Regions from separate parts of the Homo sapiens genome. Here region 1 is linked to region 2. Evidence: fine-mapped expression QTL. A gene starts in region 2. The other region holds a variant in brackets. All regions are shown on one strand. Distances are between the middles of the regions.

Evidence for each region. PIP is the estimated chance that this variant, and not a neighbour inherited with it, causes the effect.
Region 1: its variant is the best candidate, but not a certain one, in a credible set for the expression of ACTR5 in whole blood (TOPMed, PIP 0.86).

Annotation. Positions count from the first base shown.
Region 1 is chr20:38,770,189-38,786,827 of GRCh38, forward strand. It overlaps ACTR5 (actin related protein 5), which reads left to right. Exons shown (of 9, transcript NM_024855.4): 9 at 1,371-2,332. The coding sequence ends at 1,628. It overlaps LOC124904902 (a long non-coding RNA gene), which reads left to right and starts at 9,310. Exons shown (of 2, transcript XR_007067584.1): 1 at 9,310-9,764; 2 at 16,152-16,639. RefSeq lists enhancers at 9,310-9,974, 10,307-10,807, 10,808-11,308, 11,802-12,413, 12,414-13,023. The variant G/A (reference allele first, on the strand shown) is at 3,597.
Region 2 is chr20:38,736,920-38,751,985 of GRCh38, forward strand. ACTR5 (actin related protein 5) reads left to right here and starts at 11,541. Exons shown (of 9, transcript NM_024855.4): 1 at 11,541-11,934; 2 at 13,091-13,320. The coding sequence starts at 11,560. RefSeq lists silencers at 11,017-11,286, 11,587-11,776 and an enhancer at 11,137-11,638.

The DNA of each region.
Region 1 (16,639 bases), 34 kb after region 2:
CCAATTTTAGATTATGTATTCAGCAGTGGCTCAAACATACCAACCACCTAAGGCCCTCCGTGATCATTAGAAGGAAGAGAACCCCAAGATGTGCAAATTTACAACTTTAAGTTCCTGTTTTTTCTTAAACAGTAAAACATTTTTAAATATTACAAAAATATCAGACAATTTAAACCAAAATGAAAACCAAGAAAACTGTAGTTTCAGCCTCTGCGAGCAATGTTCTTTGTATACTTTCCAGTCGTTTTCATCTCATGTATGGTTTTAACCAAAAAGAGATTGGTGATAGCTTATTTTGTAACCTGTATTTTTTTCACTTTCAAATTATTATGACAATTTTTTTATATCAATAGGTACATTTCCAGAGCATCCTTTTTATGGCTGTATAGTCTATTAACCATATGTCTTGCTGCATTTTTTATTAGTAATGATGACAGCTATGCTTTATTGAATACTCTGTACCAGGCAGCATCTACCATGTGCCTTACACTCATGCACTTAAATCCCCTGAAGCCAGGGGGTGGGGCCTCTGGTTATCCTAGTGACAAGGTCCTCATTCACAGGCCCCTTGCCCACGTGGCAAGCCCAGCAGCTGGACTCCTGAGCCTGCACTTTCCCACCTCCATTTGTGCATGTTGATTCCACTGTTATGGCCTCTGCCCTTCAGTCCCGAAAGTTCTGAAATCACCATTCTAACCTGGAACTCATGGGATTGGTGGAGTGGGGAGGTGAGAGGGAGGTAGGAAGTGAGGCGGGTAACTCCAGAACACAGGAGGCCCGATGGAAGCTGCAGTGTTACCATAATGATCAGATCAGCCTAGCCGAGGGCCTTCTCAGAGCTGCTGAACCCCAGCCCAACTCCAGTGAGAAGCAGGGGAAACTAAGTGCTGGCAGCCTCACAGAGAACGCCCAGGTCACCCCTCTCTGCTGCCATTTCTCCTGAGGCTCTTTTGCTACCCTGGCTAGAGCTGCCTTGCAGCGGCCCCTGTTTCCCTCTACTCAGAGTGGGGAGCGGGGCCAGGAAGGCCTTTTCCCCAGGTCACGGGCCAGCCTCCACTTCACCTCTCCCTGACAGCTTGTGGTTGACAGCATCAGGCAGCAGGAGGCTGAGCCACTGGCCCCTCTCTGACCCCGAGTGTCAGGTCTTATGTTAGTAAAATGTCTGACAGCCGTCTGTTCTGGAGAGTCTGGGCATTCCAGCTCACCTTTGTTTACAGGGTGTGGAGCTAGCCCCGAACTGTCTTGGAGTGCACTGGGCCCACCTATGTGTATATTTCTGGGGATAAAATATCGGGGGCTGTAGCTGAGCCAGGTCAACATTCACTCCTGGAGCCCTGGTGGAGGTGTCCTGGTGAATCTTTGTGTTTCAGGTTCAACTTGCCTCGAACCCTGTGCTGGATGCCTGGTACGGTGCTCGTGACTGGGCCTTGAACCACCTAGATGATAATGAAGTTTGGATCACCAGGAAAGAGTATGAAGAAAAGGGAGGAGAGTACCTCAAGGAGCACTGTGCTTCCAACATCTATGTCCCCATCCGCCTGCCGAAGCAGGCCTCCCGCTCCTCAGATGCCCAGGCATCCAGCAAGGGCTCCGCTGCTGGTGGAGGTGGTGCTGGTGAGCAGGCATAGCAGAGGCCCTCCAGAGAGACTGCCCTGCACGCCATGCCTTGGGCCACGTTGGCAGTGTGACAGGACTGTGATTGTGCTAGATGTACCTGCCCAAGTCTGCTGGTCACATTTGGCAGCAAAATGGATTTCTCCTGGGGAGAACAAAGTTAAGGGACACTGAGACCTGCCCTTCAGAATTCGGTTCACTTGGGGGCTTCTGTGGTAGAGACTAACTGGCCTTCTGATGTCTTTGTTCAACTGTGGCCAGCTGTGGCATCAGCTTCCTGGAGCAGTAAATGAAGACAGAGTGGAGGACACAAATGTACAAAATGCACAAGACTGATTTCTTACCACATTTTAGTCTTTCTTGTTTTAAAAAAAATTCTTTAAAATTTATCTTGTCCGTGTAGATACTTTATTCTTCTGGATGTATTCAGAAATTGCATGAATGCCCAGTGAGGGGAGGTCTTTCATGCATATAAAAAGGTAATGTTTATTGCCGGGCACAGTGGCACGTGCCTGTTAAGGCCCAGCTTTGTGGGAGGCTAAGGCAGGAGGATCGCTGGAGCTTAGGAGTTCGAGGCTATCGTGTGCTGTGATCGCACCTGTGAATAACCACTGCACTCCAGCCTGGGCAACATAGGAAGACATTGTCTCTAAAAAGATACATTTTTCATAAAAGGTAATGTTTATTCAATAAAAGCAGTTGCCTCAGGAACCGGAAATATTTCCCTCCTCCTATTTTTTCCCCTTACAGATAAGGAGAAAAGCCCAGAAAGTTACCAGCATGTGAGGTCACTCTGCAAGCCAGGGACTTGCTTGGTGCCAGAGCCAGTGGCCCAACTTTGTTCATACTTTCTCTGCTGTAAACTTTTCCACCATACAAGGCCTACAAATGTTTTATTTCTGTCCTTCTGAGTTTGTTGGCTTCTTAACTTTTTCAGACTTTTTGGAAGAAAGATAAGACTGGAGGAGGTTTATCCTGTAGCCTGTTCAGTTTTGCCATAACCTCCCATTCCCTGTACCTTCCCAGCTGTGTCTTAAGTGGACAGATAACCCCTCACCTTCACAGAGATTGCTCGGTGAGAATTTTAACTCAAAGACAACCAATTATTGATCCCAGAAGGCCCCTGAGCTAATATTGTCACTGAATTTGTACCTTTAAATCTTATGGAGCCTCTAGCCCACCCCTCTGATGAGGCCACCTTAGAACCTGTTTGCTCATACAGTCTACCAAGGGTCATCACCTGGATCTCCAGCTCTCAAGGGCTTAGAAACTGCAGACCGGAAGGGAAGGGGCAGTGGTGATGGAGAGAGTGGAAGACCACAGCTGACCGTAAACAAAGGAAAAAGGAAAGGTTATCGCAAACCTAAATAGAAGATGCACAGGGGGAAGATACTCCATTGAAAAGAAATGAAATAAGAAAGTAATAGATAAGGAAAAGAGGCAAAGGAAATTAAACTGTAGTTGAAGAAGAAAATTTAACTATATTGAGTTTTGTGGTGGTGATGGTCAAAACAACATGACAAACTTTACCATCTTAACCATTTTTTTTTTTTTCCCGAGACAGAGCCTCACTGTGTCGCCCAGGCTGGAGTGCAGCGGTGCAATCTCAGCTCACTGCAACCTCCGCCTCCCGGGTTCAAGCAATTCTCCTGCCTCAGCCTCCCGAGTAGCTGGGACTACAGGTCTGTGCCACCAAGCCCAGCTAATTTTTTGTATTTTTAGTAGAGATGGGGTTTCCACTGTGTTAGCCAGGATGGTCTTGATCTCCTGACCTCATGATCCACCCGCCTCAGCCTCCCAAAGTGCTGGGATTGCAGGCATGAGCCACTGCGCCGGGCCCATCTTAACCGTTTTTAAGCGTCCAGAACAGGGGTGTTAACTCTGTGCACATTGTTGGTCAAAAGATCTCCAGAACTTTTTCATCTTGTAAAACCACACTCAATACCCATCAACTCCCTTCCCCCTGCCTCTGTCCATCCCCT[G/A]CTCTTTGCAACCACCATTCTACTTTGTAAGAGTTTTTCTTTAGATAACTCACATAAGAGAAGCCATACAGTATTTGTTGTTTTGTAACTGGCCTATTTCACTTAGCATAATGTCCTCAGGCTTCCTCCATGTTGTGGCATGTGTCAGAATTTCCTTCCCTTTTAAGGCTGAATAACATTCCATCATATGGATATACCACATTTTCTTTCTTTACCTTCGATGGACATTTAGGCTGCTTCCATTTCTTGGCTATTGCAGGCAATGCTGCAATTAACATGGGAGTGCAGATATCTCTTCAGGATCCTCATTTCAATCCCTTTGGATATATACCCAGAAGTGGGACTGCTGGATCATATGGTAGTTCTATTTTTAATTTTTTGTGGAACACTCGTACTGTTTTCCATAGCAGCTGCACCATTTTCATTCCCACCATCAGTGCATGAGAGTTCCAGTTCCTCCACATCTTCACCAACTCATTATGCTGTTTTTTTTTTTTTGATAGTTTCCTCATTTACTATCTTTCATCTTTTTGATAATAACCATTCTAACTGGGGTAAGGTGATATTTCATTGTGGTTTTGATTTGCATTTCCGTGATGATTAGTGATGTGGAGCATCTCTCTGTTTGCTTATTGGCCATTTGCATGCCTTCTTTAGAGAAGTCTCTATTCATGTCATTAGCCCCTTTTTTAATTGGGTTATTTCATTTTTTGTTGAGTATAGGAGTTCTTTATATACTCTGGATATTAACCTCTTATTAGATACATGGTTTGCAAATATTTTCTCCCATTCTGTAGGTTACCTTTTCACTCTTGTTTCCTTTAATGGGCAGAAGTTAAGTTTGATATGGTCTCATTTGCCTGCTTTTGCTTTCATTGTCTGTTTTTGGTGTCATATCCAAGAAATCATTGCCAAATTCAGTGTCGTGATGCTTTTTCCCGGAGTTTTCTTCTAGGAGTTTTTCAGGTCTTATATTTAGGTTTTATCAACTACATTACGTTTTATGTTGAAGAAAAAACACTGGAATAGAATTAATGTTTAAACTGATAATAAAATTTTCTTCCCCCACAAAACAAACCACCCTGAATATAAATACTGTAAGGCCACTCTGTGTGCTTGGGAAAGTTGACTCAGAGGTGTCAGATCCTAGTGAAACGATTAGATTTTAAAGATAAAAGAAGTCCTCTCGGGCCAGGAGTGGTGGCTCATGCCTGTGATCCCAGCACTTTGGGAGGCTGAGGCAGGCAGATCACTTGAGGCCAGGAGTTTGAGACCAGCCTGGCCAACATGGCAAAGCCCCATCTCTACTAAAAATACAAAACTTAGCTGGGCTTGGTGGTGCACACTTGTAATCCCAGCTACTTGGGAGGCTGAGCCATGAGAATTGCTTGAACCCAAGAGGCCAGGGTTGCAGTGAGCCAAGATCGCACCACTGCACTCCAGCCTGGGCAACAGAGCAAGACTGTCTCAAAAAAAAAAAAAGTCTTCTCAGCCTCCATGCAGGCTTACACAAGAAAGGGAAATTAGATGGTGTCAGACTTTTTAACAGCACTAATACTAGGAAGTTAAATAAGTTGAATAATTAGAAAACAAAAATGATAAATTTGAAGAAGGATGGCAACATTTTTAAACTACTAGAAAACCTAATTAATGTAGAAAGCACAAATGCATGTAATAAATAAGGTACTAGTCATCAAAAGAAGAAATAGGTTGGGCTCAGTGACACACACCTGTAATCCTAGCGCTTTGGGAGGCCGAGGCAGGAAGATCACTTGAGTCTGGGAGTTTGAGACCAGCCTGGACAACATAGGGAGACTCCACCTGTACAAAAAAATTTAAAAATCAGCTGGGTGTGGTGTTGCATGTCTGTGGTTCCAGCTGCTCAGGAGGCTGAGGTGGGAGGATTGCTGCAGTGAGCCATAAATGTGTCACTGCACTCCAGCCCGGCCAACAAAGTGAGACCCTGTCTCAAATAAATAATCATCTATTTTTCACACACTCTGGAAATACGTGAGAAAATCTAGCTGCAATTGTCAATTTTCTGCATTCAAGCCTTTAATTTTAAAAAAGTGAATTTTCTAGGAAAATAATTCACCAAAACTGACCTTAACAGAGATATATAAAGTTCAAACAGACTTTTTTTTTTTTCCATAGATGAACTCAAGAAAATTGCCACAGAGCTGCCCCCCTCCCTCCAAAAAACTCCAGGTCCAGTTGAGTTTAATAGCTATTAGCCTTAAACACTAGATACTTCCAGTGTTCCTTAAACTTTACCAGAGCATAGGAAAAAAAAATTAAATGATTTTTATGTAGTGAGTATAATGTTGCTATCAAAATCCAGTAGGTTGTACACACACACACAAAACAATCTTGCTTAAAAATATCAATGGAGAAAACAAATTATTTGCAATTGAAATCCACCAACACGTTAAAAAATAACATCATGGCCGGGTGCAGTGGCTCATGCCTGTAATCCCAGCACTTTGGCAGGCCCAGGCTGGCAAATCACGAGGTCCAGAGATCAAGACCATCCTGGCCAACATGGTGAAACCCCGTCTCTACTAAAAATACAAAAATTAGCTGGGCGTGATGGCACATGCCTGTAGTCCCAGCTGCTTGGGAGGCTGAGGCAGGAGAATTGCTTGAACCCGGAAGGCGGAGGTTGCAGTGAGCTGAGATCGCACCACTGCACTGCAGCCTGGCGACAGAGCAAGACGCTGTCTCAAAACAAAACGAAACAAACAAAAACATCGCGACCAAATGGGTTTTATTCCAGGAAATGCAAATGTATGTGTCAAACACCAAAATCTCAGTGGCTTAACACCAAGTATATTTCTTATGCTGCATGTTCAGTAAATACCAGTATGGTGGAGTGTGGGGAGGGGGTGATGCATTGCTGTGGATAATTAATTACTCCACACCATCTTATGATCCTTCCTTCTCAACGCAAAGCAAGGAAAGAGAACATCAAGCGTTAAGTCCTGGCTCCCAAATGTGCCACCCAGAACATATCCACCACGAGTACTCAAATTTCACTGGCCAAAGCAGGTCATTTAGCCATGTTTAATTTCTTAGTATTTCATTTTTAGTTATTTAGTATTTCTATTTATTTATGACTGTATGCCCTTGTGTGTGTGTGTGTGTGTGTGTGTGTGTGTGTGTATGGTGGTGGTTCTAGGAATTACAATATATATCCTTAAAATATTACACTCTGGGGGGTCGCAGGCAAAAAAAAATTACAGTCTGCCATTAATTAATTCTACAATACTTCACATACAATGTCAGAATGCTACCATAACAGTATAACTCTGTTTCCCCTCGGTTGGTCTTTTGTGGTATTGTCATGTATTTTATCTACTATTATGTTGTGAATCCCATAACAGTATGAATTTTTTTTATGTAGTAGTCTTCTAGAGAAATGTAAAAAGATGGTCTTGGTTGGGTGTGGTGGCTCACCCCTGTGATCCCAGCACTTTGGGAGGCCAAGATGAGAGGACTGCTTGAGCTCAGGAGTTCAAGACCAACCTGGGTAACATAGCAAGACCCTGTCTCTATTAAAAAACAAACAAATGCCTGGCGTGGTGGCTCATGCCTGTAATCCCAGCACTTTGGGAGGCTGAGGCGGGCGGATCATGAGGTCAAGAAATCAAGACCATCCTGGCCAACATGGTGAAACCCCATCTCTACTAAAAATACAAAAATTAGCTGAGTGTGGTGGCACATGCCTATAGTCCCAGCTACTGAGGAGGCTGAGACAGGAGAATCTCTTGAACCCAGGAGGTGGAGGTTGCAGTGAGCCGAGATCGTGTCACTGCACTCCAGCCTGGTGACGGAGCGAGACTCCATCTAAAAAAAAAAAAAAAAAAAAAAAAAAAAAAACAAACTCTTAGCTGATGGTGGTGGTGCACGCCTGTAGTCCCAGCTACTCGGGAGGCTGAAGCGGGAGAATTGCTTGAACCTGGGAGGTCAAGGCTGCAGTGAGCCATGATTGCGCCACTGCACTCCAGCCTGGGTGACAGAGGAGCAAGACCCTGTCTCAAAAAAAAAAAAAGAAAAAAAAAGATGGTCTTCAGCACTAACCTGCAAGTTGGCCCTTTCCAGTACAGGAGAGTAGGGATGGAGGGAGGTCATTTCCTTGACGCTAGTCTCTCAGCTTGGACATTCCTCTGAGGAATGCTTAACAGGATGAGGGAGGGGGCTTCGCCTCTGGCCAGTGCCCAGCTTAAGTAGCCTTTTGGAAAAGTTCCAGAGGACATGGAGTGGGGTGGGGTTCTGCAGGCAGCCATTCCTCAGTCTACACAACCCTCTGGTTCCACAAGAATTGGGAGATGAATTTGGCTGCCTGCACTTCCCAGCCTGCATCAGTTTTTTAAATTTTTATTTATTTATTTTTTTTTTAGATGGAGTCTCGCTCTGTCACCTAGGCTGGAGTGCAGTGGTGTGATCTTGGCTCACTGCAACCTCTACCTCCTGGGTTCAAGCGATTCTCCTGCCTCAGCCTCCCGAGTAGCTTGGACTACAGGCGTGTGCCACCATGCCTGGCTAGTTTTTTGTATTTTTAGTAGAGACGGAGTTTCACCATGTTAGCCAGGATGGTCTTGATCTCCTGACCTCGTGATCCACCTGCCTCAGCCTCCCAAAGTGCTGGGATTACAGGCGTGAGCCACCGCGCCCGGCCTGCATCAGGTTTTGATGAGCACGTGGCCAGGAGTAGGGTAGTGCTGTCCAGCCGATCCCCTGCCCGGGGAACCTCCTGTGGATTGCCTGGCATTGAGGTTGATCGTATGCCCTAGCCAGGACAAATTTCTGGAAACCCTTTTGCTTTAGTCATGGGGGCAGGGCTTTACCCACTGATACTCCCCAGCTTGCAATGCTTCAGCAATAATCTGGACTGGGTTTCATCACAAGTGGTGTTAAGTCTCCAAGGCTTTACATTTGGACTATTAATAACCGTGCCCTGGTTATCAATAGAAAGGGGCACTCCAAGAGTGTGAACTAGGTCCTCGTGTTGATGGTGATTCTGCCAGCCTTTGCTACAGGCATTCCTTTAGCCATTCAGAGAAGATACACTCAAATGCTACAGTATACTCTAAGATATGAATAAAATGGACCAGGATATTTTCAGAAGGCCCCAAAGGAGAGGATGACTTGCCCTCATTTTCTTGACAACTTTTCTCACATCTGGGCCTGTGCAATAAGAAAGCTCTTACAAAACTGCTGAGACACACTGGGAAATCCAGGGTATACCGATCACATCCAGCCAGTTCTGGCACTCCTTGGTGTGTGCCAAGCTAGGGGCTATGGGAACAGGGTGAGTGGGTAGATCCTTTGATGCCACTCCAAAGCTTTCTGGGGAGCACCAAAATGACAGGAATGCAAAATCTCTGAAGGCTCTTTTCTGAATTCCAAGCTGACTCTGCAGAAGGGCCAAACTTAAAGAAGCGGCCCAGGCTGAGCGCAGTGGCTCACACCTGTAATCCTAGCACTTTGGGAGGCTGAGGTGGGTGGATCGTCTGAGGTCAGGAGTTCGAGACCAGCCTGATCAACATGGTGAAATCCCATCTCTACTAAAAAATACAAAAATTAGCCGGGCATGGTGGTGGGTGCCTGTAATTCCAGCTACTTTGGAGGCTGAGGCAGGAGAATCGCTTGAACCTGCGGGGGAGGAGGTTGCAGCGAGCTGAGATCACGTTACTTCACTCCAGCCCGTTTATAAGAGCGAAACTCCGTCTTGGGAGGCGGGGGGGGGGGGCATGTGGGAAGAAGCCACCCGAGGAGCCTGGTAGGGTGATGAAAGTGAGAGCAGAGGTGTAGCTCAGGGCCGTGCAGCACCTCGGCTTTGGCTCTTTGCAGGCTGTAGAAGCAGAATCGTAAGACTTCTCCTGGCTTGTTTCTTTCCATTTCTCGATTTGACTCCTCAGCCTGCTCTTCTGGCTCCCTGCTGTCTAATGGAATTCCAGAGCTTGACCTTGAGAATGCAGATTCTCCCGATTGACAACTTCTAGAGAAGGGAATCTCAGAAAGACAAAGGAGATGTTCCTTCTTCCGCTGCAAGAGTGGAAAAGCAGACACTCTCCTGAGAGCCTCATAAAGCTGGTGAAAGCCTGTTCTGATAAAGCACCCAGGAGATCATTCCTTCCGCCCCCTGCTCCCAGGACAGGCACTTAGGTGAGAATGTGTGACTCATCCAGTTCTGATACCTGCTGCAAATGGTATATGAAACAAAGGAATCTTTTAAGCCACCTGGGCTTCAAAGAAATGTAACTGTGTACTTTTTTTTTTTTAATCTGCTTTTAAATTGGTAACCTTGCTTAATTGCATGTTGCCCTGGTAATAACCTTGCAATTGACATCTCTTTTTAAAAAATGAAGGTCTACAATGTCTGTATTGGCCAGAAGAGCTTTGCAAGTTTCTTTGTTCATCTTTCTCCTATGACTATGATTTTCTTCGAACAAAGAGTTTGAGAGGCCTTGCTTCGTTTTAAATTAACAATACATACTTTGCATATTTGACTTGAGAATTGTGTGTATGTTATACACTACTACAAAACAAACCAATTTCAATAAAAATAAAAGCACAATCCTTAAAATCAAAGCAAAGTGAAACAATTGAACCTCATTATATATCAAGTTGGTGGTTTACTCACACGGAGAGGACTTATTTTAAGTGACTTTAATTAGGTGACTTTATTTTAAGTGACTTTCCATGGTAGTTGGAAAAAAAGAAACCACAGTAGTTGAATGTATATCTTTAGTGGGATATATTCTAAGAACAAAAAATAACCGCACAGTAAGAAATCTTACTGTTTTCAGTAATTATGTTGTTAGTAATGGCATTGGTATGATTATTCTGAAGATATAAATATGTGTGTATATATTCAAATAATGTTAACATTGTTAGCAACCAAGATTTTCAGTATAACAAGATATAAAAATATAAAATAAAAACTGAAAAATCATATAATCCTAAATTTGAATTGCACGTATCCATATGAACACATGATGTATTTTCTCTTTACAAATATTAATTAATTAGCCTAGAACAACAAACAGCCAATCAAACAGGCAAATCACCTGAGGTCAGGAGTTCAAAACCAGTCTGACCAACACAGTGAAACCCTGTCTCTACTAAAAATACAAAAAATTAGCCAGGCGTGGTAGCAGGCGCCTGTAATCCCAGCTGCTAGGGAGACTGAGGCAGGAGAATCGCTTGAACCTGGGAGGCAGAGGTTGCGGTGAGCCGAGATTACACCACTACACTCCAGTCTAGGCGACAGAGTGAGACTCCATCTCAAAAAAAACAAACAACAACAAAACAACAATGACAACAACAATAAAACCCTCAAAATTCAGGAGTCCACTTGAAGGGGCTCCCGCTGGCCCAGGAATGGGACAATTTGAGCATCTGAAAAAATAACAGTGAAAGGTTGAAACATACTAAAATCTATGAATTCATCATGGTCACCTTTGGAGAATGCTAGGGAACCAGTTCATCATTCTGAAACTAGGAAATAAAGGGCAAAAGCAGGCATAGATCTCACCTTTCTTGTAGAAACTGTACCTCATGGCAACCGAACAGATAATAAGGGAATGTTTTTCTTTGTAGAGGATTTCTAGCTAAACAAATGAAAACAGAATGATGAAATACCTACCACCATTTTCTCTTTCTTTCTTTTTTTTTTTTTTGAGACGCAGTCTGGCTCTGTCATCCAGGGTGGAGTGCAATGGTGTGATCTTGGCTCACTGCAGCCTCTGCCTCCCGAATACCACCATTTTCTAGCTCCTAATGAAATAAAGGCAAGAGACAAATTCTTCATCAATGACAGCTAAAAACCACTCGGTGAAGAGTTGATGGAAGGCTGGGCACAGTGGCTCATGCCTATAATCCCAGCACTTTAGGAGGCCGAGGCAGGTGGATCACCTGAGGTCAGGAGTTCGTGAACAGCCTGCCAACATGGTGAAACCCCGTCTATGAAAATACAAAAATTAGCTAGGCGTGGTGGCACACCCCAGTAGTCCCAGCTACTTGGGAGGCTGAGGCAGGAGAATCACTTGGAAGTTGCAGTGAGCCGAGATCGTACCACTGCACTCCAGCCTGGGTGACAGACAGAGTTGGTCTCAAACAAAAAAAAAAAAAAAAGAAAAGAAAGAAAAAGAGTTGATGGACATCTTTATAATGGATGGATATTATGTGCCTCCTGGTGTGATACAATACGACATACTGCACATCATCCATGAAGAATTCTTAGGAAAAAATTTGAACCTGAATGTGATCAAGCCACTAAATTTAACTGCCATTTTACTAGAAATTCTGGGGACAGAGAAACATATTATGAATTAGCATCCCAACAGGAAGCAGATGGGATACTCAGGTTAGGAGAATGAGATGTGAAGGCAGGGTGTAAAGATGGTGCAGGGTCCTGGGAAGGTCCTCAGAGAAGCCTTTACAATAGGAAAGGAGAGGCTACCCAAATTTGGAAGGAGAAAGAGTTGTATAGAACAGTTGTGTTGAGAGGGACACAGCTTCAGTCAAGAAGCACAGCCAAACCAAGGTGGCCTTGCCAGGAGGGAGACAGGGAAATACACGCCCCAACTGCATTGTCCTCCCTCCCTCCCACACCTGCCAGGGCTCCCTATTGGCCAAACCCATCTGAAGCCAGAGGGCAAGAGAGCGCAGCTGATGTAATTCACACATGGCAGTCTCCAAGGGCAAATTCAAAGGTCAGAGTGGAGAAGGGTAGTTGCTAAATGGGACAAACGAGTACAGTCTGTCACAAACATGATAAATAACACCACAGGGCTGCAAACAGCAAAATCCAGAATGCAGAAAACTCTCCAGGACAAATAGCATTTTCCCCCCACCAAACAAATTGCAAAGGGGGAAAAGAGAGGGAGAAGATATAAATTAAAAGAAAATTTAGGCCAGTGCGGTGGTTCACGCCTGTAATCCCAACACTTTGGGAGGCGAAGGTGGGCGGATCGCTTGAGGGCAGAAGTTTGAGACCAACCTGGACAACGTGGTGAAACCCTGTCTCTACCAAAACATACAAAAAAAAAAAAAAAACAAAAAACAAAACTAGCCAATCGTGATGATGCACACCTGTAGTCCCAGCTACTCAGGAGGATCAGATGGGTGGGTCGCTTGAACCTGGAAGGCAGAGGTTGCAGTGAGCCGAGATCATGCCACTGCACTCCAGCATGGGTGACAGATCAAGACTTGGCCTTAAAAAAAGAGAGAGAGAGAGAGAGAAAAGAAAAAAGAAAATTTAAAAGCATAACAAAAATATAAAGTGTGGACCTTGTTTGGTTCCTAATTCTAATAAGCCATGTTTGATAAAAGAAACTTCTGAGCAAATCTGGCAAATGTGGATATTTAATAATATGAAAGAATTATTGATAGTTTTTAAAGATGTGGTTGTGATTTTTGTAGTTTTATGGAGGGAGAGAGAGTGAGTGAGCTTGTCTTATAGAGATGCATATTGAAATGTTGGCAGCTGGAGTCATATTTGGGATTTGCTCCAAAATAGGCAAAGGCTTATAGATAAAACAAGAGTGAGTGACCGTGTGTTGATTGTCACTGAATATGGGGGAATAGGTACACAGGGGCTGGTTATACTTCTCTGTTTTTGTGTGTGTTTAAAATTTTCCATTAAAAAAATTAAAAAGTTGAGCCAGGCACAGTGACTCATGCCTATAATCCCAGCACTTTGGGAGGCTGAGGTGGGAGGATCCCTTGAGCCCAGGAGTTTGAGACTAGCCTGGGCAATGTAGCAAGGCCCCTGTCTCTACAAAAGCAAAAAAAATTAGTGAGGCATGGTGACCCAGCTACTCCGGAAGCTGAGGTGGGAAGATTACTTGAGCCTGGGAGATCCAGGCTGCAGTGAGCAGTGATTGTGCCACTGCCCTTTGGCCTGGGTTGCAGTGAGACTGTCTCAAAAAATAAGATAAAAAGTAATGACACTCTTGTCTAGCCTTGTTTTGTTTATCATATAGCAATATTTCTTGGATATCACTCAGTAGCAGTGCGTAGTGAGCTGCTGCTTAAAAAACAAACAAACAAACAAAAACCCAGGAGTCTCACTATTGTTTCACAGGCTGGTCTCAAACTCCTGGGCTCAAGCGATCCTCTCACCTCGGCCTCCTGAGTAGCTGGGATTACAGGTGGGGATGCTTCTTCCTTGTCTCTTTATAATGTATGTCTGTATAAATTATATGTGTCACAAACACGATAACGCCATGGACATGCAATCAGCATATCTATGACATATACATATAAATTTTACTCAAACGGTAGCATACTATGGCTTAACAATATGTCTTGAAGATCACTCCATGTCAATACAAACCAAGCTTCTGCTTTTTTCCCTTATCTTAATATTATTTTTCATGGATAATGCATTGAAAATCTACTCTCCAACCTTGGCTCTTCTTTTTTTTTTTTTGGAGATGGAGTCTCACTCTGTCACCTAAGCTGGAGTGCAGTGGCACAATCTTGGCTCCCTGCAACCTTCACCTCCCAGGTTCAAGCGATTCTCCTGTCTCAGCCTCCTGAGTAGCTGGGATTACAGGTGCCCACTACCATGCCCAGCTAATTTTTAAATTTTTTTTTAGTAGAGATGGAGTTTCACCATGTTGGCCAGGCTGGTCTCGATCTCTTGACCTCAAGTGATCCACCTGCCTCAGCCTCCCAAAGGGCTGGGTTTTCAGATGTGAGCCACTGCGCCCGGCCTCCTTGGCTCTTTTCTCTTAAGAAACGGATGAGAATTGCAAACATTTTCCTATGATGGTATTTGTCTTTTAACTTTGTTGGGGTGTTTTTCCACTCAGATTCTTTTCGTGGACTTAAATTGCTTTTGGGTTTTATGTCATACTTTAAAAGGCCTCACTCACTTTGAGATAACAAAAAAAAAATCCTACGTTTTCTTTTCACATATGTGGTTTTTTAAAAATCCTTTTTGGGCTGGGCACGGTGGCTCACGCCTGTAATCCCAGCACTTTGGGAGGCCGAGGCGGGCAGATCCCTTGAGGTGAGGAGTTCGAGACCAGCCTGGTCAATATAGTGAAACCTCGTCTCTATTAAAAATACAAAAATTAGCCAGGTGTGCTGGCGCGGGCCTGTAGTCCCAGATATTTGGGAGGCTGAGGCAGAAGAATCGCTTGAACCCGGGAGGTGGAGGTTGCAGTGAGCCAAGATCATGCCACTGTACTCTGGCCTGGGTGACAGAGCAAGATTCCATCTCAAAAAAAAAAAATCCTTTTTGGTAATACATACACACATATAATGATATAAAACATAAATGTACACCCAAACAACTGTGGCTAAATGAACACCTGCATGACCACCACCCTCTGTGGTCAAGAAATAGAATACTGCTGCCACCCTAGAAGCCTCCAGTATGATCCATCTTCCCTCATTAAAATCCACTCCTTCCTCCTTAGAAGAGACCATTGTACTGATGTCAGTGGTATTCTATTTCATGTTCCTTATCATGTTGCTACCTCATTATGCATCCCTAAACATTATTCTGTTGTTGTTGTTTTGAGACAGAGTCTTACTCTGTCAGCCAGGCTGGAGTGCAGTGGTACAATCATGAGTTTGAGGCTCACTACAGCCTCAAACTCCTGGACTCAAGTGATCCTCCTACCTTAGCCTTCTGAGTGGCCAGGGCTGCAGGCATGTGCCATCATGCCCAGCTAATTATTTTATTTTTTGTAGAGACAGGGGCCTCCTTTTATTACCTAGGTTGGTCTCAAATTCTTGGGCTCAAGCAACCCTCCTGTCTTGGCCTCCCAAAGCTCTGGGATTATAGGCATGAGCCACTGAACCTAGCCCCTAAACATTGTTTTTTGTTTGTTTGTTTGTTTGTTTTTGAGACGGAGTCTCACTCTGTTGCTCAGACTGGAGTGCAGTGATGCAATCTCTGCAACGTCTGCCTCTCGGGTTCAAGTGATTCTCCTGTCTCAGTCTCCCAAGTAGCTGGGATTACATGGGCATGCCACCATGCGCAGCTAATTTTTGTGTTTTTGTGTGTGTGTGTGTGCAGATAGGGTTTCACCATGTTGGCCAGGCTGGTCTCGAACTCCTGACCTAAGGTGATCCACCCACCTCGGCCTCCCAAAGTGCTGGGATTAGAGGTGTGAGCCACTGCACCCGGCCAACATTGTTTTTAAGATCCATTCATGTTGTGTGTAGCTGTGGTTCATTTTCATTGCTTTGTAGTATTTTATTGTATGCATGTACCATAATTTATTTATCCAGTTGGAATTTATCCTGGCAAAGATTTGCAGTAAGTCTCCAGCTGAATTTCTTTTCAGGCGACTAGCCAGTTGCACCAACAATATTTAGTGAGTAATCCGTCTTTTCTCCACTAATGTAAATGCCACTTTTATTATTTATTAAATGACCTTAAATATTGTGGTCTACTTCCAGACTTGCTCTTCTGCTCCATTCATCTTTCTATTTCTGAATTTGCAATGAACAGTTTATTATTGTCACTTTATAATACACTTTAAGATCTGGCAGAGTTTGTCTCCCGCATTTCTCTTTCTTTTTCAGAACTTTTCTTGATTTCCCTGCATGATCTTTGGAATCAGCTTGTCAAGATCCAAAATAATCCTGTTGGTATGTTTGTTTGTATCCCATTAAAATTATAGATGAAAAGATAGAAAGATGGTATCTTTTCTTCAATTGACTCCTCTAGCCAAAAATGGATATGACTTTTTCCTTTATTCAAGTCTCATGGCACATAATAGCCTTTGAAAGTTTTAGTCATATAGTTCCTGTACATTCCTTGTGAAGTAACTCATTCATTTAAACATTTGAATAGTATTCTATTATATTTCATTCCATGGTTTATTTAATCATTCTATCTTTGAATGGCATTTGAATAAATCTGTTTCCAAGTTTATTCTGTTACATATAGCACTGCAAAGAGTATCCCTGCAAAAATATGTATTTGGAAATGATGTTACTATAAATGAAGTTGATGGACCAAAGGATTTTAAAAATATAAAATAATAAGATAATAAAGGTCATGCTAATAT
Region 2 (15,066 bases):
ATCGCTTGAACCTGGGAGGCAGAGGCTGCAGTAAGCCGAGATCATGCCACTGCACTCCAGTGTGGGTGACAGAGCGAGACTCCGTTTCAAAAAAGAAAGAAAGAAAGAGAGAGAGAGAGAGAAAGAGAGAAAAAGAAAGAAAGAAAGAAAGAAAGAAAGAAAGAAAGAAAGAAAGAAGAAAGAAAGGAAGGAAAGAAAGAAAGACAAGAAAGAAAGAAAACATGATCAATGTAGAAGTCAGGGAAAAAGAAGGAAATGAAAGAAAAGGAAAAGAAAGAAAAGGAGCAAAATAAAGGCCCTTCCAGTCAATACAGGGTAGTAAAAATAAATGAATAAGTAATAAAGATAAGTGGACTAAACTAGCCAGTCAGAAGACAATGATTCTCAGATTGAAATTTGAAAGTCCATCTATACACTCTTTGCAAGGTATATATCTAAAACAAAAGATGGAGAAAGATTAAAATAAAAAGATGGAAACATTTGCCAGGCTAATACTAATCAAAAGAAAGCTGCCAGCGGGGCACAGTGGCTCAAGCCTGTAATCCTAGCACTTTGGGAGGCTGAGGTGGGCGGATCACCTAAGCTCGGGAGTTTCAGACCAGCCTGACCAACATAGAGAAAACCCATCTCTACTGAAAATACAAAATTAGCAGGGCGTGGTGGTGCATGCCTGTAATCCCAGCTACTCAGGAGGCTGAGGCCAAAGAATTGCTTGAACCCGGGAGGTGGAGGTTGCAGTGAGCCGAGATCGCGCCATTGCACTCCAGCCTGGGCAACAAGAGTGAAACTCCATCTCAGAACAAACAAACAAACAAACAAACAAAAAATGACAAAATATGCCAGGATGATTATTCTAAACTTGGTGTTTTTAATAACACAGGTTCCAAATATAGAATGTAGAGAAATGGACTAATTTACAAACATAGTAGGAGAGTTTACTTATTTTTTATTAAAAACAATTTTTTTGAGATAGTGTCTCACTCTGTTGCCCCCGGTGGAATGCAGTAGTGTGATCATAGCTCATTGCAGCCTCAAATTCCTGGACTCAAGTGATCCTCCTGCCTCAGTCTCCTGAGTGGCTAGGACTGCAGGTGTGCACTGCCATGTCTGGCTACTTTTTTTATTTTTATTTTTGTGGAAATGGGGTCTCACTATGTTGCCCAGGCTGGTCTTAAACTCCTGGCCTCAGGCTATCCTTGCACCTCAACCTCCCAAAGTATGGGATTACAGGCATGAGCCACCATGCCCAACCAAGGAGAGTTTAACATACTTTCTCTGATATTCAAATTAACTTGCCTTTTTTTCCTTTTGTTTGCTTTTGTTTAATATGCCTTTGCCCATACTTCAATTTTTTATTTTTTATTTTTATTTATTTTTTTTATTTTTGAGATGTAGTCTTGCCCTGTCACCCAGGCTGGAGTGCAGTGTTACAATCTCAGCTCACTGCAGCCTCCACCTCCCAGATTCAAGCTATTCTCCTGCCTCAGCCTCCCAAGTAGCTGGGATTACAGGCATGTGCCAAAACACCCAGCTAATTTTTGTACTTTAAAAGAGACGGGGTTTCACCATGTTGGCCAGGCTGATCTTGAACTCCTGACCTCAGGTGATCCTCCAATCTTGGATTCCCAAAGTGCTGGGATTACAGCCACTGCACCTGGCCATACTTCAATATTTTAAGTTTTATTTTTTGTATTACATATACACATAATTTAAAGAATCAATGAATTCTACAAGTTAACTAAAATAGCACTCTGTAGCCCCTTCCTCCAATTTCTCCTTCCCCAGAGGCAACTACTTTCAATTCTTACACTTGATCCCGTTTTATTTTTTTTTGAGACTGAGTTTCACTCTTGTTGCCCAGGCTGGAGTCCAATGGCGAGATCTCGACTCATCACAACCTCCACCTCCTGGGTTCAAGCGATTCTCCTGCCTCGGCCTCCTGAGTAGCTGGGATTACAGGCATGTGCCACCACGCCCGGCTAATTTTGTATTTTTAGTAGAGATGGGATTCTCCATGTTGGTCAGGCTGCTCTCAAACTCCTGGCCTCAGGTGATCCACCCGCCTTGGCCTCCCAAAGCGCTGGGATTACAGATGTGAGCCACCGCACCTGGCACTTGATCCTTTTAATATTTATCTCCACATCTCCAAATAACATGCTTATATTGGGCCAGGTGTGGTGGCTCACACCTGTGATCTCAGCACTTTGGGAGGCCAAGGCAAGCAGATCACTTGAGGTCAGGAGTTCAGGACCAGCCTGGCCAACATGGCGAAACCCTGTTTCTACTAACAGTACAAAAAATTAGCTTGGCATGGCGACAGGCACCTGTAGTCCCAGCTACTCAAGAGGCTGAAGCATAAGAATTGCTTCAACCTGGGAGGTGGAGGTTGCCGTGAGCTGAGATCTCACCACTGTACTCCAACCTTGGCGACAGAACAAGACTCTGTCCTCCCCCACCCCCTGCCCCCACAAAAAATGCTTTTATTGCAATTTCTTTATTTTTCATTTTGGACCTTAATTATTGACTCCCACTCAGGAAGGTGAGGTTTTAGTCCATTTCCTAATTCTTCTCCAGTCTACATCCCCGCCCCTTCAGTTTCCCAGTATAGTTACATGATCATTTTAGTTAGCTTAGTACTCAAGATTTACATTGTATGATATGTGTACTAATTAGAGCTGGGGCATGTGATAAACTATGATTACAATTCCTTTCCTGTACAACTTTTTATTGTATAAGAAGTTGCCTTTTTGTTTGTTTCAAATTCCTTTTTTTTTTTTTTTTGGAGACAGAATCTCACTTTGTCTCCCAGGGTTGGAGTGGTGTGGTGTGATCATAGCTCACTATAGCCTCAACCTCCTGGGCTCAAGCGATCCTCCCACCCCAGCTTCCTGTGTAGCTGGGACCATAGGCATGCATGCACCACCATGCCCAGCTAATTTTTTGATTTTTTTTTTTTTTTTTTTTGAGACAAGCTGTTGCCCAGGCTGGAGTGCAGTGGTGAGATCACAGCTCACTACAGTCTTGACGTCCCAGGCTCAAGTGACCCTCCCAGCTCAGCCTCTTGAGTAGGTGGGACCACAGGCACACACCACCATGCTTAGATGATTTTTTTTTCCATAGATGAGGTCTTGCTATGTTGCCCAGCCTAGTCTCAAGCTCCTGGGCTCAAGCAATCCTCCTGCCTTGGCCTCCCAAAGTGCTGGGATTACAGGCGTGAACCACTGCACCTGGCCAACTGTTTTGATTTCTTGTAGAGACAGGGTCTTGCCATGTTGCCCTGGCTGGCGTCAAACTCCTGGGCTCAAGTGATCCTTGGCCTCCAGGTGTGAGCCACTGCTCCCAGCCTCAAATACTTTTTAATAACTGAACCCCAAACTCTCCTCCAATTGTCTAAACACCCCTCAATTGTTTCATTCACACAAAATATGGTATCAGTTTCCCTTTCCTGAAGAAGTCTCTCCCAAAGCAGACCCACTCCAACCTGGCCAGCACCCCATATGCCTGTAGCACAGCTGTCCTCTTGGGATCCGGCTTTTCAATCACCTCAGGGTTCTCTTACTTCACTTGTATGTTGCAGCTCCTGTCTCCTGTCTCACGTGATTTCTCTTTCTTGGTTTACTCCCTTGTTTTGAAGCAGATTCCACAATAGCTTCTGGAATATAAGGGAGGTTATGGAAGGTACATTTTTGAGGCCTTGAATAACTTTAAATGTCTATATTCTACCCCAGTTCTTGATTGAGGGTTTGGCTGAATTCTAGTTTGGAAACCATTTTTCTTTAGACTTGAAAGCACTTTCCATTTGTTTTCTAGTTTTCGATGTTGCCAAGGAGAAGTTTGAAATTGATCTTTGTTCTTTTGTATGCAAACATTTTCTTTCTCTTTGGAAACGACTGGATGTTCTCATTGTTTCCAGGGAACTGAAATTTCATGATGTGTGTTCATGTAGATCTGTTTCCTTTCATTGTGGCTTCTTCCCAACACAGCAACTCAAGTGCTTCAATTCTAGGAAGTTGCCTTGAATTGGGATGGCCCTCTGTATGTTTTCTGTTCTGTCTTTTGGAACTTCTATTATTTGTAGATTAGAACTGCTCCTCTAAATTTCTTATTTTTCTTTCCTCTTTCCCTCTTTCTCTACACACACATACTTTATTGGAGATTTTCTCAACTTTATCTTCCATCTACGAAGTTTTTCATTTCTGCTATCTTGTCCCTCACCCCAAGCCCCCGAAACCTTCTTTTGGTTCTCTTAACCTCCCTGTTCTATAGCAAACTTTTCTTGTTTCATGGATACAATATCTTCTTCTATCTCTTTGAAGATATTGTAGTAATAATGAGTATTTTAAGGTTTCTCTTTTTCACGTAGTCTCTATTGCCTCCTGGTTGATTTTCTTCCCTCTTTGTATGCTTTAACCTCTGGCTTTCATGTTAGAAGCGTACCTCATTTTAAAGACTGGGGTAGTACAGGCTGATTGGGCTAGTAGAGGCTGATTGGAGGTGCAGAGTCCATGGAAGAGTCCTACTGACTGTGAGTTTCATCGTAAAATGATCTCAATGGGCTGTTTGAGGGAGAACATCCAAGACCAATTCACTTAGAGTTTTCCTCTCAGGTTGGATAAGAATCTCAGGGAAGATTCTTCCATTCTTTCGCTGAAGGGTAAAAACTTGGGAACCTATAGAGTATCAGGAACAAAGTAGGGGAAGAGACTGGGATCTTAGCATTCATTATGTATATTGACTTAATCATTTTGTTCTCAGTTGATATCCTTGTTTAGAGACTATTTGTTTTACTCTTTGCAAAGAGTCAAACCTCCAGTCTTTTTGGGGAATTCTGGAGGCAGTTAGAAAGAAGAGCACCTATAGACTTCGGCAGGCTTCTTCATAAAATAGTTTTAACAAGTTCTCCTTATTTTGGCCGTTCCACTTTTACTCTCTTTTCTAGAAGAACCTTGTGCCACTAATTCCTGAGACTTTTCAGCATTGTACAGTGTGAAACAGATTAGTGTTCAGCTTTTCCCAGAGCAGCTGGGGAATCAGGTTTTCTAAACTAGATACCACTTGCATGTATACTTTCCAGTTCTTGAAATCTCTCTCTCCCATTCTCCTATTCTTGTAGGGTTTTCCTTTTAAAAAAATCCCCTTATTGAGGTGTGAACTGTCAGTCCCCTGCCCCCTGCTCCATCTACTTAACCTGAGGGCTTAGAGGAGGACATAGCACTAACTTACCTAACACATTCTCACCAACCAAGGCTCTCGTCACCTGTGATCAAGGGAACCTGCCCCATAGTAAGCACCTTATGGGACACTCTGCTCTATTCCCCAGGGAAGGAAGACCAAAGTGACATCTGAGCTGGCCCTTAATGAGGATTCTAGAGGCAAACGATGTAGGGCAGAGCATCTCGGTCTGCATCAACAATACATATGTGCAAAGGTACAGGCTACTAAAAGGCCACAGCATGCCCTATATCTGATTATTCCAACCAGTGGGTTAGCAGGATCTGGGATGAAGTTGGAGACCCTGTGCTAAATCACCTGCCCCCAGTCCTAGTCTGCCACCTGTCTCCTCAGTTACGTGGATATCCTTTCTGTTTCCCAGGCAGTTGGCCCAACGAGCCCTGAACCAAGTCCAGCACAAGGCCTTGGTCAGCCATGATGAATTAAGGTTCAACAGCCTAATTTGATACCTGTTCTCATCACATCCTCCCCACCAAGCTGCAGGCAGAATGCATGGCACATGGTTTCCTTGGAACAGTTTTCTGATAGTTCTACCGTCTGAGTCCTGTCATGAAGGCTCTCTAAGGAACAAGACTAGATACATCATATGATCACCTGTGTGTGTGTGTGTGTTACTTAGGACAGGAGCCAACATGGCCATAACTTAAACCAAATAGAAGGTGTATTTAATGTGGGTTCTGATTCACTACATCCGTGAATGTGCCCTCATTTAGAAATATAGTTGTTGCAGGTACATAGTACAGATATAATCAGTGAAGCTCATACTGAAGTAGGGTGGGGCCCTAATCCAATAAGACTGGTGCTCTTAGAAGAAGAGGAAAAGTGGGCTGGGCGTGGTGGCTCACACCTGTAATCCCAAAACTGTAGGAGGTCGAGGCAGGTGGATCACAAGGTCAGGAGTTCGAGACCCGCCTGGCCAATATGGTGAAACCCTGTCTCTACTAAAAATGCAAAAAATTAGCTGGGCGTGGTGGCGCATGATTGTAATCCCAGCTACTTGGGAGGCAGAGGTTGCAGTGAGCCAAGATGGCACCACTGCACTCCAGCCTGGGCAACAGAGCGAGACTCTATCTCAAAAAAAAAAAAAAATTAAAAAATAAAAAGAAGAGGAAAAGAGACAGATACACTCAAGGGGAGCACCACATGATGACGGCAGCAGAGACTGGAGAGGCCAAGCAATGCTGAGGATTGCAGGTGTGTTCGTCACTGAGGATTGCAGGTGTGTTCGTCAGGATTCCCCAGAGAAAGAGAACTAATATTATATATGTATACATACTTACACACACTACATGGAATTGGGTTACTCAGTTACAGAGGTAAGCAAGTTCTAAGATCTTCAGGGTGAGTTGGAAAGCTGGAGGCCCAGGAGAGCCAATGGTTTAGTTCTAGTCTGAGTCTGTATTAGTCCGTTCTCGCCCTGCTATAAAGAAGTTCCTGAGACTGTGTAACTTCCAAAGAAAAGAGATTTAATTGGCTCATGGTTCTGCGGGTTATACAAGCTTCACTTCTGGGGAGGCCTCAGGAAACTTAACAATCATGGTGGAAGGCAAAGGGGAAGCAAGTACTATCTTCACATGGTGGAGCAGGAGAGAGCAAGCGAAGGGAGAAACAACCAGATCTTGTGAGAACTCTACCACAAGACCAGCCAGGTCCATGGTGCTAAACCATTAGAACCACCCTATGATCCAATCACCTCCCAGCAGGCCCCACCTCCAACGCTGGGAATTATAATTCAACACGAGATCTCCGTGGTGACACAGAGCCAAACCATATCAGAGTCCAAGTCCGAAGGCCTGAGAACTGGCCTTAGTAGTGTAGTTCCAGTCTGAAGGTCAGCAGTCTTGAGACCAAGGAAGAGTCTATGTTTCAGTTCAAGTCTAAAGGCAGGAAAGGCTGGGCGGCGGCTCATGCCTGTAATTCCAGCACTTTGGGAGGCCAAGGCGGGTGGATCACCTGAGGTCGGGAGTTCAAGACTAGTCTGACCAACATGGAGAAACCCTGTCTCTACTAAAAATGCAAAATTAGCAGGGCATGGTGGCACATGCCTGTAATCCCAGCTACTCAGGAGGGTGAGGCAGGAGAATTGCTTGAACCTGGGAGGTAGAGGTTTCGGTGAGCCGAGATCGTGTCATTGCACTTCAGCCTGGGCAACAAGAGTGAAGCTCTGTCTCAAAAAAAAAAAAAAAAAAAAAAAGGAAAAAAGCTGATGTCCCAGTCCAAAGCCATTCAGGCAGGGAGAGTCAGCCTCTTTGTTCTATTGAACTGATTGGATGAGGCCCACTCACATTAGGAAGGGAAATCTGCTTTACTCAGTCTACTGATTGAAATGTTCATCTCATCCTAAAGCACTCCATAGAAAACACCCAGAAAAATGTTTGACCAAATATCTGGGCAGCCAGAAAGGCTGACATAAAACCAACCATCATAGCTGACAGCACCAGGAAGCTAAGAGAAAGCTGTGGAACAAATACTACCCTGGAGCCTTCAAGAAGAGCATGGCCATGCCGACACCTTAATTTTAGCCTTCTGCCTCCAGAAGTGTAAGAAAATAAATTTCTCTTGTTTCAAGTCATCCTACTTTGTGGTACTATGTTACAGCAGCTAGGAAAATAATACAGTAGGCTTCTAAAGCATTTTTTTTGAGACAGAGTCTTGCTCTGTTGCCCAGGCTGGAGTGCAGTGGCACAATCTCAGCTCACTGCAACCTCCACCTTCCAGGTTCAAGTGATTCTTGTGCCTCAGCCTCCTGAGTAGCTGCGACTAAAGGTGTGCACCACCATGCCCAGCTAATTTTTTGTATTTTTAGTAAAGACAGGCTTTCTCCATGTTGGCCAGGCTGGTCTCGAACTCCTGACCTCAAGTGATCTGCCCCACGGCCTCCTAAAGTGCTGGGATTACAGGCGTGAACCGCTGCACCCAGCCTAATGTATTTTTTTCTAGTCATTTCCATGGGTAAATCTTTACAGCCCTAGATTTTGTCTAGTGCTACAGTGTGCAATAGAGTAGCCACTAGCTACATGACTATTTAAATTTAAACTAAAATTAAGGCTGGGTGCAATGGCTCACACCTGTAATCCCAGCATTTTAGGAGGCCGAGGTGGGCAGATCACTTGAGGTGAGGAATTCACAACCAGCCTGGCCAACATGGTGCAACCCTGTCTCTAATGAAAATACAAAAATTACCGGGGTGTGGTGGTGCATGCCTGTAATCCCAGCTACTCGGGAGGCTGAGGCAGGAGAATCGCTTGAACCTGGGAGGCAGAGGTTACAGTGAGCCGAGATTGTGCCACTTCACTCCAGCCTGGGTGACAAGAGCGAAACTCCATCAAAAAAAAAAAAAAAAGAAAGAAAGAAAGAAAAATTAAAATTAAGAACATTTTAAAAATTCAGTTCTTCAGTTACACTATTCACATTTCAAGTGCTCTGCGGCCACATGTGGTTACTGGCCACTGTGTTAGACACAACAGATACTAGATCATCTCCATCAATTTGCACATTTCCAATGTACAAAGTTCTGTTGGACAGCATTGGTCTAGTGTATTAGTCGGTTTTCTCCTGCAATAATACTGCATAGCAACTCCAGAATTTCAGTGGTTTATAAGAATAAACATTTTTCTTGTTCAGAGGTCCATGGGGCAGCTCAACTTTAGGTTGCAGGTTGGCTGGACTTGGCTTCGGACTGCAGTTTAGGTTCAGATCTGCTCCATGTATCTCTTATCCTCTTTGGACTCAGGTATGTTCCTCTCATGACTAAAAGCAGGAGTGCAAGAAGGCAATCTAAACCAATCATATTCAGTTAACAGTCCATTGGCTAAAGCAAGTCACATGACCAAGCCTAATATCAGTGTCCTCAAGGAGAGGCTCTACAAAGTTACAAGGCAAATGGTATGGATGTATCATCCTACTATAAAGGAGTGAAGAAAAAAAAAGTAAAGGAATGAAGAACTGGGAATAATAATCCAATCTACCTCATGTGCCAAACGCTTATAAAGACCAGCCTGGGCAACATGGCAAAACTCTGTCTCTATGTGGTGGTGTGCACTTGTAGTCCCAACTACTAGTGAGGTTGAGGCTGGTCTTGAACTTCTGGGCTAAAGCAGTCCTCCCACCTCAGCCTCCCAAAGTGCTGGGATTACAGGCATGAGCCACCACACTGGCCATCCCCGTTGGAGTTGCCTCTCATATATATATAAAATAATAATATATATAATATATATATTTACCTTGGTGCTTTTCTTTTTTTCTTTTTTGTGAGACAAAGTTTCACTCTTGTTGCTCAGGCTGGAGTGCACTGGCGTGATCTCGGCTCACTGCAACCTCCGCCTCCAGGGTTCAAGCGATTCTCTTGCCTCAGCCTCCCAAGTAGCTGGGATTACAGACACCTGCCACCATGCCCAGCTAATTTTTGTATTTTTACTAGAGACGGGGTTTCACCATGTTGGCCAGGCTGGTCTCGAACTCCCGACCTCAGGCGATCCACCAGCCTCGGCCTCCCAAAGTGCTGGGATTACAGGTGTGAGCCACTGCGCCCAGCCAGTGCTTTTTCATATTAATATACATAGACACAATTCTTAAATTAACATTCACTAACTTACATTTACTGGTTTCTGTGTTCTGCTGGTCCCCCTCTTAATTAACTTAACGATGGTTACTTCAGATATCTGAACAATGGACGTGTGTTGAAAGACAACACAACCTGATTTTTGCCACTGGGCTGGCTCCCAATCTGGTTTAGGTGTGTTAACAGGCTGGGCCCGTCGTCTCAAGCCTGTAATCCCAGCACTTTGGGAGGCCGAGGCAGGCGGATCACTTGAGCCAAGGAGTTCGAGACCAGCCTGGCCAACGTGGCGAAATCCCGTCTGTATTAAAAATAAAAAAAATTAGCTGGGTGTTGTGGAGCATGCCTGTAATCCCAGCTACTCGGGAGGCTGAGGCAGGTGAATTGCTTGAACCGGGGATGTGGAGGTTGCAGTGAGCCAAGATCACACCACTGCACTCCAGCCTGGGTGACAGAGCCAGACTCCGTCTTAAAAAAAACAAACAACAACAACAACAAACACTGTTAATAGAGGTTCTTGAGATAAGTTAGGAGTTTCATTTCTCGCTTACAATATCTTTTGTAACTAATTTGATTTTATCTCTCAAACTGAAGTGTTATAGACCTGGTAGAGTAGATTCAAGGCAGCTGCTCTATTCTTTTTCTTCTTTCAAAATGGTTATGGCCAGCATGGGCAACATAGTGAAATCCCTTCTCTACTAAAAATATAAAAATTAGCTGGGCGTGGTGGTGCACGCCTGTAATCTCAGCTACTTAGGAGGCTGAGGCGGGAGAATCACTTGAGTCCAGGAAGTCGAGGCTGCAGTGAGCCGAGATCGCCCCACTGCACAAAAAAAGGTTGTAGTAAAACAACTGCTCTAATTCTTACCCCCTTAGCTAGTGAAAAGATGGAAATGCGACAGGATAGAGCGCGACGAGTGCTTTTAGGGCTAAAACTGAGTGGGTCACACACATGGCCTCCTCTCCCACCCGCTCCTGGCCAGAATTTAGTCACATGAGCGCATCTAGATCGCAGCCAGACGGATGGCCACGTGGGAGTGGGAGGTGATGCCACTAAAAGAGAGGGAATGCTTGGGGAACAATCAGCAGTCTTTTCTCAGGGTTTGAGAAAACACTGTGTCTTAGTGAGAAGACACAGTCTGTGCGAGTTAGTAAAGTGAACAGAACTGAGTAGTCAGCTCCCTAGTCAAGAAATTGAACAGTCGGCAGAGTTTGAGATTTCTTAACGTAAAGGAAGCGTCAAAAGATAAAGGACCCTTCTAGCCAGGACGCAAGACTGAGGGCGAGACAGCCACGCGGAGGCGGGGCCGCCGGCGGTCGAAGGTGCGCGCCCGGCCGACGGTGCGCGCCCGGCCGACGGTGCGCGCCCGGCAATGGGGCGTGGCCAGGCAGAGAGGCGGGGCTCCACCGAGCGCGGCGCTGAAGCTGGCAGCCAGAAAGGGGCGGGGCCTGGCGGCGATAGGCTTTGGGGCGGGGCTTCCAAACCGGGCGTCCCGGCTAGAGTGAAGGGGCGTGGGCACTCATAGGCTATTGGGGGAGAGGTTAAGAAACGTAGAATTTCGCAGCCAGAATGGGTACGTCTCAGCGATCCTGAAAGCAGCCTTGACAGCCAGAGGCGAGTCAAGTGGAAAGGCTGGCCGGGCTTCGAGAAGGGAGGGGGCATCGAGGTACTTAAAGGCCTGAATCGCGCGGCGTGACGTCGGGGGCGCGGTTTCGCGGCGTCTGGGCGGACACTGCGCCGAGGGGCGGGGCTGGACGCGCGCTCCAAGATGGCGGCGAACGTGTTCCCGTTCCGCGACGCCCGTGCCGCACCGGACCCAGTGCTGGAGGCCGGCCCGGTGGCACACGGGCCACTGCCGGTACCGCTGGTGCTGGACAACGGGTCGTTCCAAGTCCGCGCTGGCTGGGCGTGTCCCGGGCAGGACCCAGGTCCCGAGCCGCGCCTGCAGTTCCGCGCGGTGTGCGCCCGCGGTCGTGGCGGGGCACGGGGCGCGTCGGGCCCGCAGGTGGGGAACGCTCTGGGCAGCCTGGAGCCACTGCGCTGGATGCTGCGCTCGCCCTTCGACCGCAACGTGCCGGTCAACCTGGAGCTTCAGGAGTTGCTGCTGGACTACAGCTTCCAGCACCTGGGTGTCTCCTCACAGGTGAAGGGCGGAGTAGGCTGGGCTGGGCTGGGTTTGAGGGGAGGGGTGCGGTCTCGTCTCCGCTCACTCTGCTCTCGGAGAGGTAACAGTCACTTCAGTAGCTCCGATTGTCTTTTAGTCGACCAGATGCTAGGCGCTGTGGGTGTAGCAGCGAATAAAATGCTGCTCCTTGTATCTTGGAGCATACCTTTGGGCATATATGCTTGTTTGTTAAGAAGCCCATTTATTAACAAATACGTATTGAGCACTTACTCTGTGTCAGGCACTTTTTAGGCATTTGGAGTACATGTGTGAACACAAAACTTCCTGTGCTTATGGAGCTGTTAATACTATGGAAAGATATTCTAGTATGAAAAGGCAGACAGTAAACATAGAAATAGTAGATTCTACGCCGTGATAGGAGAGGAGGGAGTTACATTTTTTCAGTAAGATGGTCAGGGTAGGACTCGTGAAGGTGATGTTTGAGCAAGGACTTGAAGGAGGTGATTCAGGTAGCAAGCCATGTGAATATCTGAAGGAAAAACGGTCCAGGCAGAGGGAGCAGCCAGTAAAAAGGCCCCGAGGCAGGAGTGTGCCCTAATCCTAACTGCAAGGCTGCCTGTGTGAGGGGGAGAGTAGTACCTGAAAGAGGATGTCAGAGAGGTAGTGGAGAGGCAGATCACACACCTTATAGGCTTTTACTGAGTGAAATGGGGAGCCATGGCAGGGTGTTGAGCTGAAGAAGGACCTGACTTGTGTTTTAAAAGGATCACTATTACTGCTGTATGGAGAATGAATTGTCTTGGATCATAGGGTGGAAACAGGGACGAGTTAGGAGGCTGTTGGAATAACCCAGGTAAGGGATGATGGTGGCTTAGATGAGGCAGATAGCAGGGAATGTCATTAGAAGCAGTTGGATTCTGGAAATACTTTGAAGATAGAGCCAACACGATTTGCTGACAGTTTGGATGGGACCTTGACTTAATAACTTAAATTGACTCTACTTTCGTATTTTCAAGTAAAGATGAGATGGGAGTTTTATAATCGCCTCTGATCAGGTTTTTGATTAAGAAGCCAAAAGCAAATTCAGTCCTGCAATAAGGATTTTGGGTTCTTTTATGCTTCAAAAAGAGTATTCTGTTACCACTCATTTATTTGCCCTTTTCTTTCAAAGTAGGGCTGTGTTGATCATCCCATAGTTTTGACAGAAGCTGTGTGCAACCCACTGTATTCACGGCAAATGATGTCTGAGCTTCTTTTTGAGTGCTACGGGATTCCCAAGGTTGCCTATGGAATAGACAGCCTCTTCAGCTTCTACCACAATAAGCCAAAGAACTCGATGTGCAGTGGGCTAATCATTTCATCTGGATACCAGTGTACGCATGTTTTACCCATCTTAGAAGGGAGGTGAGTTGCACTTGTGGCATTTGAGTGCGATTTTGAGAAGCATTCAGGAAACATTTATTTACTGCGTGCTTTAAAGGCAGAGTAGAAAGAGCAAGTACTAGCCTGTGAACTGAGCCGTTGGGCTTAGCTTTGAACTACCTCACTGTGTGACTGGGTAAGTCCCTTTGCCCATAGTTGTGTCCTTTGTGACCTTCTGGAGGGAGTTGGGGTGGATGATCTCTTAGTTCCACATCCATAATTCTACAATATTATAATTCTGACATAATGGGGAGATAGCTAACATAGTATCTGCAGGTAGTAGGCATTCAGTAGAAATGTTTTGAATAAATTTAATCGAGACCATCTTTGTGTTCTGGAGTTTTTTTTGTTTTTTTTTTGTTTTTGTTTTTGTTTGTTTGTTTGTTTGTTTTTTGACAGAGTCTTGCTCTGTTGCCCAGGCTGGAGTGCAGTGGGATCTTGGCTCAGGGCAACGTCCGCCTCCCGGGTTCAATTGATTCTCCTGCCTCAGCCTCCCGAGTAGCTGGGACCACAGGCACCTGCCACCATTCCTGGCTAATTTTTTTTATATTTTTAGTGAGACAGGGTTTCACCATGTTGGTCAGGCTAGTCTCAAACTCCTGACCTCAAGTGATCCACCCTCCTTGGCCTCCCAACATGCTGGGATTACAGGGGTGAGCCACCGCGCCCAGCCAATTTCAAGTTATTTAATCACTATTGTTTAGACCTTTCAGGTACAGTGCCTGGCACGTAATGGACCCTTACTAAATATTTTCAAGTTGAATAAAAGGCAAGGGTAGTTTATGTCATATTTAAAAATCTGTTGCCACTTTATCGTTGAGCTTTAACTGTCTGATAAGAGCCTAGGCCACCACTGTGTTCTCCTGAGGTTTCTCACATTGGCACAAAGAGACCCACGCTTTACAGCTGAATGCCTGGGTTTGCAGCTCTGCTACTTAACTTCCTCACTTCATTTCCTGATACGTAAAATTGGGAAAAACTGATTTCCCAGGGTTACCCTGAGAATGAAATGAGATAAGGTAGGTAATGGCACTTTGTAAACTGTAAAGCAGACTGAACATATAAGGCAAATACCATTGAATTTCTCATGAAGTTTCTATGAAAATTTTTGAAGAAAAAAGTAATTCTTAGGTGTTACCAAATGCTCCTGATGTATGAAGTTCTCTATGTAAACAGAATATGCAAAAATAAAAAGTAACATATTTTATATTGAGAGAAAATTACCTGAAGGCTGGGAAATTATCAGAGTGAATCATATCGTGTTCTATGCTGGCATCTGCTGGTGAGGTATGATACAGCAGTGACATTTTAGTTCCCTACAGTAAGTTCCTAGTGCTCTGCCACTTACTTTCTCACATTAGGAAAATAAAATTATTCTGGTTCTTTTACAGTAAGTCAGGATGCGTGTGGTTACTTAACGTGTTTGCTTCAGTAGATGTGGAGTGTTAAGGGAGGGCTTCTTAAACTCTGGCCTTCAGTCACCTAGGGAGCTCATTAAAATGCAGATCCCCAGGCCCCACCCCAGAGCAGCTGTGTCCTGGGAATTGGCATGTTTAAAATTTCCCCCAGCTAATTCTGGGATACCTGGTCCCAGGACTACAGTTTGAGAAATATATGACGAGACTCATTAAGATCTGACTGGAGTGCATACTTGTTAGGTGGCCGTGTGACTGTATGGGTGAGCTAGGAATGCCTGCCTAGATAAGAGGTTATACCAGGGGAACTTCA